2 separate regions of the Homo sapiens genome follow, and region 2 is reported to be linked to region 1. Evidence: microRNA targets listed by miRTarBase, many of them from high-throughput screens and not tested one by one. Region 1 holds a microRNA gene; the other region holds the end of a gene's coding sequence.
The links. Region 1 holds the annotated microRNA hsa-miR-5587-3p (GCCCCGGGCAGUGUGAUCAUC, at 4,127-4,147, opposite strand). A microRNA usually pairs through its seed, bases 2 to 8, with sites in the 3' UTR of a target mRNA and lowers its output. Matches are read on the target gene's strand: a 7mer-m8 pairs with bases 2 to 8, a 7mer-A1 pairs with bases 2 to 7 and ends in A, and an 8mer does both.

Region 2: the mRNA of NKX2-3 is a reported target of hsa-miR-5587-3p. Seed matches in the 3' UTR shown: 7mer-A1 at 673-679.

Annotation. Positions count from the first base shown.
Region 1 is chr16:531,827-539,494 of GRCh38, reverse strand. It overlaps MIR5587 (microRNA 5587), which reads right to left and starts at 4,179; the gene lies at 4,127-4,179. CAPN15 (calpain 15) reads right to left here. Exons shown (of 14, transcript NM_005632.3): 2 at 5,497-5,549; 3 at 3,353-3,466.
Region 2 is chr10:99,535,285-99,540,356 of GRCh38, forward strand. NKX2-3 (NK2 homeobox 3) reads left to right here. Exons shown (of 2, transcript NM_145285.3): 2 at 1-1,240. The coding sequence ends at 437. Among named protein-coding and RNA genes, the nearest start is that of NKX2-3, 4.9 kb to the left of the region's middle. RefSeq lists silencers at 21-170, 1,746-1,825 and an enhancer at 4,868-5,072.

The DNA.
Region 1 (7,668 bases):
GTCCAGGGCCTCTGACACGCGGCCCACCTGTGCTTCTGGGAAGGCCACCTTACCCCCTCTGGCTGAGGAGAAATCAAATACAGTTGAGAACGTTAATCCTGAGACGGGAGGACCCTGCCCGTGCAGGCAGCTGCTCTCCCCAGAGTCCGATACACTCCCCTCTCCCTGCCAAGATTGGGGCCAAGATGGCGTCCCGGCAGGCTGGCCGGCTGTGGGTTGACCAGCAGTTCCTGCTGTCACACACGTCACAGCCCTTCTTCCAGCTTCTGATTAAGTCTCTGGGACACACAGCCAGCGTCAGGGTAGAGCTTAGGAGGAAAGGGTCAAGTAAGTGTCAAAGCTGCCGTGCGTGGGGGATCACCTGAGCCCAAGAGTTTGAGACCAGCCTGGGCAACACAGTGAGACCCTGTCTTTATAGAAAACTAAACACTATCCGGGTGTGGTGGTGTGCACCTGTAGACCTAGCTACTCAGGAGGCTGACGTGGGAGGATGGCGTGAGCACCACAGCTGCATTCCAGCCTGGGAGACAGAGCCAAAAAAAAAAAAAGCACCAAAGAACATATCCTTTGGAGCTCAGGGAGGCCTGGGGGCAGCCCTAGGTGAGCGGGCTGGGGGGGGTGGGGGTGCAGTTCCAGCTTCTCCCCCGCGACGATGGGGAGCAGCAGAGGGCAGGGATGTGGGGGGCCTTTCCAGTCAGTGCTCTGACACCCGGGAGGGGCCTGCAGCTCTGAGGCCACAGGGGCTGAGCTCAGCGAGGCACGAGCACCTGGGATCGCACAGCAGACGCGCCAGCCCTTCCCTGGTTCCTCCCCACAGCCTTGGGGACAGAAGCTTCAAGGGCAGGGGCTGAGGGGGTGAGACAGAGAATTCTGGATCCCCTCTCCTTTGAGGCCTGGGGCAGAAGCCGCCGAGTCCCCCGTGTGGTGATAACGTTCGCCTGAACCACTTCACTCGGCACGAGGGTCCGTTTTCTCTGAAGGTGCTGGGGTCGTGGGAGGGTTGAAGCATTGCGGGCCCTGCACCCTGGAGACCCTGCCATCCTGTGGTGGCTCAGGCCTGCCCCGTAGGCAGAACGGTCACAGGACACACGGGGCCAGTGTGGGGTGCGGACCAGAGCCCAGCCCTAAGCCTGGTCCAGCCCGCAAGTCAACAATGGCTTTTACATTTTTAAATGGTTGGAAAAAAATCAAAAAAAAAAACAATACTCTGTGAGAGGTGGGAGTTCCATGAAATTCAGGCCTCGGGGTCAGCAGGGCACAGCCTGGCTCACTCGCCTGCAGGCGCTTCTCCACAGGGACCACCCTGTACTCACACCTGCCCTCGAAGGGGCACCTGGCGGCCACGCCGGAGAGCGCCGCGCAGTGTGGACGGGGCCACGGGAGTCGTGGCGGATCTCCTGGTATCCACGTAAGACAGGTGGAAAGGAACAGACAAAACAAGCCTTGGCGACGTGCTCTGTGTGATCCGAGGTATCTGAGACATCGCTGCGTCCGTGTGAAGCGAACGTAAAACATGACGGAGACATCCAGGACCCGTTCTCCAGGCCGGGTCTCTGGACGTGCCACACTACAGGCCCTGCAGCCACCAGTGCTGGCGGCCTCCACAAGGGGCAGCGCTCAAACATGCAGGACGCAGGCGAGGTCCACGGGGTCTCGAATGCCACACGGAAGCAAGGCCGGGAGCCCAGCACGCACGGAGCAGGCTCGCTAGCAGGGAGCCCACGCATCAACCCAGGGCCTCTCGCGTGGCTACGCCAGACGCCGGAACCACCCAAACGGCCCCTGCGTTCCCCAGCCCAGGCCACGCAGGAGTCCCTCACGGGAGACGGGTTGGGCATTTCCGACACTCCCCTTCTGTAGCCAAACCCTGAGCGGGTCAGGGCGGGGCAGGGCTTGGGTGGGAGCGGCGACTAGCGGAGGTGCCACGGGACAGAAGCTGCTTGCACTGGGCCCTGAGCTGGTTTGGCTCTGACAGGAGCCCTGCCCGTTCTGTGTGAGGACTGCACACCTGCCAGGGCCAACCTCAGCTCCTTCGCCACTCACCCACCCACGCACTCACCCACGTGGCACCTGGGGTCACGCGTGCCGCTAGAAACACAGGCTCCTACCAGGCCCCGCCTGCTCCTCACTGATGCCTTTAGGCCCAAGGCAGAAGTGGTGCCCAGCTGCACCCAGGGCAGGAAGCGAGCTGCTCACCAGCCTCCTGCTCCCCTGCGCTCACTCAGAAAACCTTTCTTGAGCTGGAGCCAGTCTCAGGCAACTGACCCTGTGGGCCCCATCTGGACAGGAGGGAGGCCTGTCCTAGGAGAGCAGGGACAGCACAGTCCCCTCCCGTGGGTGCTCGGAAGAGAAGAGAGGACCCTGCAGAGAAAAGCAAACGTCCCTGTCACAGAGGCTGGACAGCTGGCTCTGTTAAGCCCTCTCCGGGGTTTTTCCAGCACACGCCAGGGGATCTCCAGAGATGGTATCGCTGAACCGCCCCGATCCGCTGCCAGAGGAGTCAAGAGCCCCGTGAGGGGTGCCGGGGGCCCTGCCCTGGCTGGCGAGGCCCACTAAGGAGCAAGAGCTCCCGGGACACAGCTGCCAGCCACGTGCCAACCTGAGGGTCCCATCGCAAGGGTGACTGTGGGAAACTGGCACCGATGCTCTTCCCGAAATCCACCCTGCTGGCCTTCCCGAGTGCAGCTGTGGGTCCTGGGTCCCCCTGTGTTCCGTCCACTCATGATGGACAGATGCTAGTACAGGATGAGCAGCTACGGAAAAGGCTCCCAGGCCAGGTGCAGTGGCTCACGCCTGTAATCCCAGCACTGTGGGAGGCCGAGGTGGGTGGATCACGAGGTCAGGAGTTCAAGACTAGCCTGCGCAAGATGGAGAAACCCTGTTTCTACTAAAAACACACAAAAAATTAGCTGGGCGTGGTGGCGGGCGCCTGTAATCCCAGCTACTTGGGAGGCTGAGGCAGGAGAATGGCCTGAATCCGGGAGGCGGAGGTTGCAGTGAGCCGAGACCGCGCCACTGCACTCCAGCCGGGGCGACAGAGCGAGACTCCGTCTCAAAAAAAAAAAAAATAGGCTCCCAGCCCGCGTTCCCCTAGAGGGAGGGAACTGCATTTAGGAGGAAGACTCCGATGGGAGGGCCCCAGGAAAGAGGAGCAAGAAGTGGTGGGAAGGAGGGAGGGCAGCACCAGCAGCCACCCCCAGGGACAGCGCCCAGCCAGGGCTGACTGCATCTCGGCCGTGGGTGCTGGCTCCGGCCAGACCTCGGCAGGGGGGTTATCATGTCCAGGGCCACTGAGGACAGCAGGGACAGGGCCTGCTGCGGCCAGCCAGAGGCTCTTGGGAGGAACGCTCACCTGCCACTCCCAGGTCCGGCCCACCTCAGGGCCTGGGCACACGTGAATCACCCAGTGCAGTGGCCCCGAGGACGCAGGTCAGGTCAGTCCGTGGTTCCCATCCTGGCTCCCTGTCTGAATAACCGGGGGGGGGGGGGGGCGTGCAGGGGCACTGTCACCAAGGAGTGTGCCCAGGCCAGGCCGAGGGACAGCAGGGTGAGGCCCCCGCAGAGCATGCCGAACTCTGACCCCTGACCCCAGGGACATGCCCTGGGCCGCTGCTGCTCCTGTAGGGCCTGCCGCCGGCCAAGCATCTGTGCTGCTCCCGTGAGCTGCATGTGCCCCCCGGGCCTCTGCTGTGGGCCAGGCTGTTTCAGGTGCTCGCGAATGGGAACCAGCAGGAGCCGTGACCACAGGGCTGACTCTCAGGGCGGCGCCTCAAGAGTGGCCGTGACTCATGACTGCCACAGAGCCAGGCTGCAGCCACGCCCGCCTCTGGGCTCCCTGGAGGGGCAGGGTGCGGAGGGCCCCGGGCTGTGTGGATCCATGCCTGACCCCCACAAGTCCAACTGTGCAGCTCCCCGCCCTCCCTGGGAGCCGATGCCCTAGTTTTAAACGGGGCGGTGGCCTAGATCCAGCCTCAGAGAATTGCAGAGGTGAGGCCGCCACTGCCCTGTGGGGACAAGTGGTTAATGAGCAGGGCCAACTGGCCGGTCCCTGTCCTGTATGCCACACACACACCCCGTGAGGGCAGCAAGGAGCATCCAGCCAGGGGACGTGCACGAGAAGGGCCAGGATGATCACACTGCCCGGGGCTCAGCACAGGGCTGAGTCCCGGAGGTGACCATTGCCGCCCCGCTCCATCTGCGGCCACTGAGGTCTGCTGGGGGTCTCTGGTGCTGGCCTTGACAGCCCACCCGTGGCAGGACAGGGTCTCGAGGTGCCTCTCGGTAGGTGGTGGGCTCAGTGGGGGTGACCCGTGGGGACGGAACGCATGCTCCTGAGGCTCCAGTGGATGCAGGCAAAGGCACCTCCCGGGGTCAGCGTCCCTACCTGGGGAGCTGGGAGCCCACATGGGAGCAGGGCTGGCACAGCGACCCCCAGCCTTGCGCGGGCGGCACCCACAGCTGTGTCCACTCCGCATACACTCCTCACTGTCTCGCTAACTAATCATGTACACGGCTGTACCCCCGAGCCCTCCCCTGCCCCGCAGGTGACACAGGCGTGTCCCACTCACACAGCACCTGCTCCTGGGCCCTACATCTCCGTCAATCTTTCACAGAGCCATCTTGCCACCATGGGAACCACAGCGACCCCAACAAGGATGCCCCGGTGTCACCCCTGCCCGAGCTGGGGGTGTGGGGGGCAGCAGATGGAAAGCGGGGGCCCCTGTGTCCAGGCAGCTGGTGGCCTGGCCTTGCCCCACGGCAACCCCACTGCGCCCTAAAACTGCACCCACCAGACCAGAGGCTGCTGGTCCAGGCAGGAAACAAGAGCCAGCCACTACCGGGACGAAGCTCAGTCGGTGCCCACAACCTGAAGACAGGCAACTCTGCCTTTGTCCCCACTGACGCTAAGGCCCCTGTGGAGGAGATGACCCCAAGGACAGGAAGCTCCTGCATGAGTCGGGTGGGAGGGCTGAGGACAGGGCTTCCCATCGTCCCTACAAGAAACAAGGCCAGGGCCCCGCCCTGGGGGAGGACGTGGACTCCGACCGCCCGCCCCAAATGACAACTGGCAGGACAGCATTCTCCAGAAACAGGTGCAGGCCGCTCCCCAGGGACCAGGCACCCTCCTGGCTGAGGATAGCGGTGGGGGCCGTGCACAGGCTCCTCACCAGCCCCAGCCCCAGCGCTGCCGTGGGGATGGGGAGCTCCATCTGGGGGCCGGGGCCACAGCACAGGGGAGGTCCCCAAAGGGACAAACACCCCTGTCGGGACCCCGGGCCGCCCTCACCGTCGCCTCCCACGACAGGACCACGGCCCAAACGGCTGGGAGAACGAGGCTCTTCAGGGCAGGCAGGGCTGCCGGCCTCCAGGGGTTCTGTGAATCAAGGGCTCCGAGAGGCCCCCCAGCCGTGGGCACTCCAACCCTGCTGCTCCACAAACAGTTCTGCAGCGCAAGCAAACCCATAAACGAGCCGCAGGGCTTGGGAACAAACTCACCTGAAGCTGCAGCAAGCTCCCAGGCCCTCTCTGTGCCGCGTCTGGGCTGCTGCCTAGAAAGGGAGGCATTTAATCAGGCACCTCAGCTTCCACCAGGAGGACTCTGACCCTGGAACACAGAGCCCCGCCTCCAGCCCTCTCTGCAGGAGCCAGAGTCCCGGGAAATCAGCCCCGGGAGACCCTTCGCCTTAGAAGCTGTCCGAGCTTCTGTCCTTGGGTGTCTGTCCGAGCGCCAAAGGCAGCCCGGGGAGCAGCAGGGGCTCAGCAGGCTCCTCACTACCCTGGTTTAAGGCCCTTGACCTGTCCAGTGCGGTCAACCTCCGGCCAGCCAGGACCGCAGACAGGGCCATTCAAGATCCTGTCCGGACCTCCCACGGCCCGACCCTGCTACAAGGAGCAGGCCGTGGGCAAGAGTCCATGAGCGGGGCTGCAGAGCAGCACCAGCCAGGGAGGGCGGCCGAGCTTCCCAGGCACTGCCAGGGAAAGGTGCCCAGCTTGGGCAGGCACAGGCACACAGCCAGGTGGCCACCTAGACTCCCCCGGACCCCAGCCCGAGTGCCACCCGGCCACTACAGCTGTCAGCAGGGCGGCCACTGCTTCGAGCCAGGCGGCTTTGCTTCTCTAAGGTCATGCTCTCCATGGCGGACCCACTGCGGTGGGCAGGATGCTCACGCTTCCCGCCCTGTCCTTCCTGGGCCCTGTGTAGGGCCCACCATGGACTCCTCACTCAGCCATCACCCTCTTTTTTGTTGGTTTTAAATTTTTTATTTTATTTTTTGAGATAGAGCCTCGCTCTGTCACCCAGGCTGGGGTGCAGTGGTGCAATCTCAGCTCACTGCAGCCTCCGCCTCCCAGGTTCAAGCTATTCTCCTGCCTCAGCCTCCCAAGTAGCTCGGATTACAGGCGCCCGCCACCGTGCCCAGCTAATTTTTGTATTTTTAGTAAAGACGAGGTTTCACCATGTTGGTCAGGCTGGTCTCGAACTCCAGACCTCAGGTGATCCACCCGCCTCGGCCTCCCCCAGTGCTGGGATTCCAGGCATGAGCCACCATGCCCGGCCCCTCACCCTCTTTTGTGATCAGCATGAGGATGGTGTGCAGGTGTGTCCAGTGGCACAGGCATCACCTGTTTTTTTTTTTTTTTTCTCTGACAGAGTCTCGCTCTGTTGCCCAGGCTGGAGTGCAGTGGTGTGATCTCGGCTCACTGCAAGCTCCACCTCCTGGGTTCACGCCATTCTCCTGCCTCAGCCTCCCGAGTAGCTGGGACTACAGGCGCCTGCCACCAGGCCCGGCTAATTTTTTTGTATTTTTAGCAGAGATGGAGTTTCACCGTGTTAGCCAGGATGGTCTCAATCTCCTGACCTCAGGTGATCCACCCGCCTTGACCTCCCAAAGTGCTGGGATTACAGGCGTGAGCCACAGCGGCTGGCTTTTTTTTTTTTTTTGAGACAGGGTATCACTCTGTCACCTAGGCTGGAGTGCAGTGGTGCCATCTCGACTCACTGCAACCTCTGCCTCCCGGGTTCAAGCAATTCTAGTGTCTCAGCCTCCCAAACATCTGGGATTACAGGCACACACCACCACGCCCAGCTAATTTTTGTATTTTTAGTAGAGATGGGGGTTTCGTCACGTTGGCCATGCTGGTCTCTACCTCCTGACCTCATGTGATTCACCCACCTTGGCCTTCCAAAGTGCTAGGATTACACGCATGAGCCACTGAGCCCAACCGAATTCTACTTTTTTTTCTTTTTTTTTTTTTTGAGACGGAGTATAGCTCTGTCGCCTAGGCTGGAGTGCAGTGGTGCCATCCCGGCTAACTGCAACCTCCGCCTCCCAGGTTCAAGCAATTCTACAGTCTCAGCCTCCTGAGTATCTGGGATTACAGGCACACACCACCACACCCAGCTAATTTTTTTATTTTTAGTAGAGATGGGGTTTCGCCATTTTGGTCAGGCTGGTCTCGAACTCCTGACCTCAGGCAACCCACCTGCCTCGGCCTCTGAAAGGGCTGGGATTACAGGTGTCAGCCACCGCACCCAGCCCCGACTTCTATTTTTAACAGGAAAAAAGGACCAGACAAGCACTCGTGGTTTTTGGCACTTCTCTACTTCTCTGCTTGCCATGTGGTGGCAGAAGCAGCCCTGGTCTGGGCAGCCCGGTGACCTCACTGGTG
Region 2 (5,072 bases), not on the chromosome of region 1:
CGCCGCCGCCGCGCCGCGTGGCTGTCCCGGTGCTGGTGCGGGACGGCAAGCCGTGCGTCACGCCCAGCGCGCAGGCCTACGGCGCGCCCTACAGCGTGGGCGCCAGCGCCTACTCCTACAACAGCTTCCCCGCCTACGGCTATGGGAACTCGGCCGCGGCCGCCGCCGCCGCCGCCGCCGCCGCCGCAGCAGCGGCGGCCTACAGCAGCAGCTATGGCTGTGCGTACCCGGCGGGCGGCGGCGGCGGCGGCGGCGGGACCTCCGCGGCGACCACTGCCATGCAGCCCGCCTGCAGCGCGGCCGGAGGCGGCCCCTTTGTGAACGTGAGCAACCTAGGAGGCTTCGGCAGCGGCGGCAGCGCACAGCCGTTGCACCAGGGTACTGCAGCCGGGGCCGCGTGCGCTCAGGGCACCTTGCAGGGCATCCGGGCCTGGTAGGGACGGGGCGGGTCACGCGGCGGGCACCCCAGCGCAGCCTGGCGCCGCGGGACTGAAGCTCGAGAAGGGCCTGACCTAAAGGTCAGGTCCCCTCGTTAAAAAAATATGTACGTCTAGCTCCTCAGGGCTTCGGATCGCAGCTCACTCGAGGCCTGGGGAAGGGGACTCAGGGGCGAGGAGGATGACTGGGTCCGGTCGCCAGGACTGTCTCTGAGGCAGAAACGCCGGCTGGGCGCCGGGGAGGACGATGGCCCCGACCCTGGCAGCGAGAGGAGACCAGGAGGCTAGGACCCTGGCCGCGCTTGGTTCTTCCAAAGCGAGAAGGGCTTCTCTCCCTCTGCCTTTCCGCGGCCTCCGCGAAGCGTTGGCGGGGAGCCCAAGGACATAACAAATTAAAAGCATGAAGGAGAGAAAAATGGGGGTCGTGGCTTGAGAAATTCCAGGCCCTACCGATCCTCTGCCCCCTTTGCGGGCCTGGAGCGCCATAGCACAGTCGATTTCGTTTCGCAGCTGTCTCCCCTCCGCAGCAGATACCTCGGTCCAGATCTCCGGATTGTCGGGGGACGCAGGACTCTTCGAGGAAAACCAGCCGAATGAGATCAAAAGTTGGGGGTGGGGGGAGGCTGAACAAACTCAGGACCTGGTGGCCCACCGGAGGTGTTACCGGGTTTCCTTTCTGTTTCGTATTCTGTATTCAGCACATGTTATCTATCTATCTATCTATATAACTATAACCACACGCCGTGTAGACACCCGCTGCCACACACTACAGGAGTCAATAAACAAGGTGCAATATTTTCAAATCGTTGGCCGGCTACAGAATTTGTTTAGCCCCAAAGAGTGGAGAGGAATCCTTTAAATAGGGCGGGAAGGGGAGGAAAAGGTGCGAGGGGGAAAGCCATCCTCCCTGGGCGATCGCAGGCCTGGTCTCCCATGAGCCAGGCCCCAGGCTGCAAGTCTGATCTCTTCGGGGCTTTGTTCATTAATTTCTGTTTACTCTTGAGGGCTGGACAGGTCGAAGGCTCAGGGCCATTTGAAGTCCCTGGCTTTGCAGTTCCCCCTAAGTTTTACCCAGATGCTTGGACTAGCTGTATAGACCTGCGTTCGGTCAAGTCTTGCACTCTGCCCCACCTCGAGGGTCGCCAGGGAAAAGGAAGCCTCGCTCGCAGTCCCAGCTGTTGGCCGCGCGAAGGCGGCTCCTTCCCTGGCTGCAGCCAGGGCTACCAACGCGCCCGGGGGCGCTGCGCTGCGCCCCACTGCGGCCGAGCTCTCCCCCTTGGCCGCCCTCCCTTCTCCCCCGGCGGCCGCGGCTTTATGCGGCTCCTTGTCACTTGCGGAGAATGCCTGTGCGAGGCCTGTGCTGCCACACGGCCGATTGTGAGCGTGCCAAGGCGGGTGAATGGGGAGGCCTCAGAGCGCCGCGCCATTGTGGGGCCGGGCCTCGCTGAAAGGCGGCTCCGGGCCGGGAAGGTGCGGAAAGAATGGCTTTTTATTGGAGTCCCGAACAAAAGGTGTGGTAGGAAGGCGAGGTCCCCTGCGCGAACAAAAACCCCAGCGCGTCGGATTGACGTCCCCCCCGAGCTCCCCATTGCTTCTCAGAGCGGGGGCTTTGTGCAGCAGTCTGCTCAACAGAGGGACGGAGAAATGTGCGGGGGTTTTGTTCCCCACTTTTTGTGCTCTGGGGGAGGGGGCGGCAGGGGGACGGGGGCTGGGCGGGCAGCAGGGAGGGGCGCGCTGATTAGGCCGGGCCGGCCGGGGCGCTGAGACGTTCAGCGGGAGTCGGCGGCCTGAATGCTGGGTCATTATTGCTACAAGTTTAGCAATTTCTCCCTTACAGGAGGGGGTGGGGCTGCTAGGCTGTGGCGGGGCCGCCCGGCTGGGGAGCTGTAGAGACCCGAGGAGGAGGAAGAAAAAGAAGGAGGGAAGGGAGGGAGGGAGGCAGGCAGGCAAGGGAGCCCTCCGAAGCCCTCTGACCGCCCAGGATGCGACTTGGACACATCCGAAAGGGCCTAGCGGGAGGCTAGAGAAGCGGCACTTGGGGAGCGAAGACCTTCCCTCCCCTTGCCTCTCAGGCGGCAGAAAGACCCCAGAGCCGAGCGTGAGCCAGTGCACCAGACTGCTGGTCCCGCAGCAACTCGCGGCCGGGTCCCTCCTCTTTCACGTCGCCCCCGAACTGGGACACAGCCTCCCACCACCGTGATGCCCGAATCCCCTTCCCTACCGCGCTCCCTCTTCTGGAGCCGTTACCTTTCCATGGATTGCTTAGGCCAAGGGCTGGAGAGGAAATTCTTGGCTTGTTACTTGCTTCTCACAGCCTGCGGCTGCAGACTTTCATTCATTCATTCATCCATTCAACTAGGTATACTGAGCACCTACTATGTATTCACTTGTACTGTTGAGTTGCTGGGAACGGTGAAAAAAAAAGTGTCCCTAGATTGGTGGATTTTATTTTCAGGTGTGAAGGTGTGGGTGGAGGGAGGGTGAGACAATAAACAAATGCAAAAACAGAAGATGAATTCTAAAAAGGAAATAGAACCAAACGCTGGGAACGGAGGTCTTTTCAAGTAGGCGGTCGGGAAAGCCTGTTGAGATTACATTTAAGTCAATGCCTGAATGACAAAACGAAGTCATTCCAACAGTGCTTTGCTATCTCAGCCTCCATGCCTCAGCACATGCCCTCCCGTCCATCTGGAATGCCCTTCCACCCCCATTTTTCTGGTGAACTTTTGCCTCTCCTTCAAGGCCAAGCTTCTTTCCTGAACCACCTAAGTAGAGGTAATCACTCTCACATTTGTGCCACCAGAGTCTTAGGTACTTTCCAATATCATAACATGGTGTCATGCAAAGATTTATTTGTCTCTCTCTCTCCACAGGAGGTTGTGGAGGGCCAGGTTGGCATCTTTTCCCTCTGGGACAGGTACCACAGTAGGAGCTCATGGGGCCAGGAGGGTTGTGGGATGCCCTCTGGGCTCTGTCAGCACCTCTTCCCTGGTGCTTCATGGCTGCCTGAATTGCCTGGGTGCTGTTGAGCTGTGGCCTTGGCTGCTAGCTTCGAGGGAAATGTGGAACTGGAATCTTGCCTTCCCTGGGCCTAGTTCAGGACACTTGGCAACCCATCTCCAACCCAGCCGAAGGTCCCACCTCTTCTGTACCCCCTAATGCTGCCTAAGGACATCCCTGCCCACAATGTTGCACCTCGTCCTACAGCTCAATACCTAGAATAGGAGGGAGGCTAAGACCTTGGTGAAGACCTTGACCCCAGGGCACAAAATTTGGGGCCTGGGGAACACTAGGATGTGTAAGAAACCCAGGACCCGCGTCTGGGACCCAATTCGACTTCCCCTACATTCATTAGGTGCAGGGAATGGAAAGTCAGCAAGATCTGGGCAAGCACCCTGTGAGAGCTCACTCCCCCAGCACCTTCGCTCTTGGAACTGAAGTCTCTAGGAATAGCTGCCCTTGCTCCACTGGGGGTTTCCTAAGTAAGCAACTACTTTGCCTCCAATGCAGTCCCTTATCCTGCTGGGCCTTGGCCTCTCAGTGCTCCCAGCACCACACCCCCACTTTCCTTGCTGGGCTTCCTCTTGCCCTGCGTTGGTCTTCCTTCACTCTGCATTCCCTCTTGTTCTGGAAAAGTGGCTTGTGATCCTCACAGAGGAAACAGAACTGGTTCTGTGGATTGGCTTCCGCAAGTTTGCGTGTCTTGAGATACTTGAAGCCAGCCTAGACCAGCCCGCTCCCTACCCTGCTCCGGAGCCTGCAGTCTCCAGGTATAAATAGCTCCCACCACTTCACTGGAGGATTTCCCTACTGCTCCTTGCTGGGGTTCCTCCATCAGAGGTTGAAAACCCTTGACCAACGCAGGTACCTCTTCCTTGGGCTCCCTCTCCAGGGTAAAAGTTCCCCCTGACAGGACAAACTGCTGCTTCATTAAATTGTCCTGTGAGTCAGGAGGAATCAAAATCCAGGCAGGCCTTCTAATGACCCATGAGACTTGGGACAGGCCAAGTAAGTTGTTCCTCTGGGCTGTGGTTTTTGAGATCTATGGTAGAGAGAAGGGTGAACCATATGATTTCAGAGGTCACTTCAGGTTCAACCCTCCTGGGTTCCCTTGGATGAGTGTGTAACCCCTCCCCACCCAATAAGCTCAGGGTGGGTTGGCACCACTGAGGGAAGAAGTGGGATAGGTTTTAGATGGCTAGTACTTTTTCCTGCAAAGCCTGATCTTGAGGAGTTAAGAGGATGAACTCTGAAGTCAGACTGAGTCTATTCTATTCTCAGCAGCACCACAACCAGCAGTGGAAACTTTGAATAAGTTAGAAGTGCCCTGAACCTCAGTTTCTTCCTCTATAAAATGGGTATGCTTGTAGCACCTCTTTTTTTTTTTTTTGCCTACAGTAAAACATGCAAATAGTTAAGGATGCAACTCAGTGAATGTTTATATAGTAAACATTCGTGTATCAATCATTTTGGCTTTAAAAGTTAAATAAGATGATCAATCTCAATACCTAGGATATTGCGTCGACGTTCTAGGAAGATGTCTAGGACTCTATTCCGCCCTCGAGGCACTCCCAGGTCCCCGGGGTGAGGGGGGTGGAAACAGGGGGGTGGGAACAGGGGCGCGGGGGGGGTCGT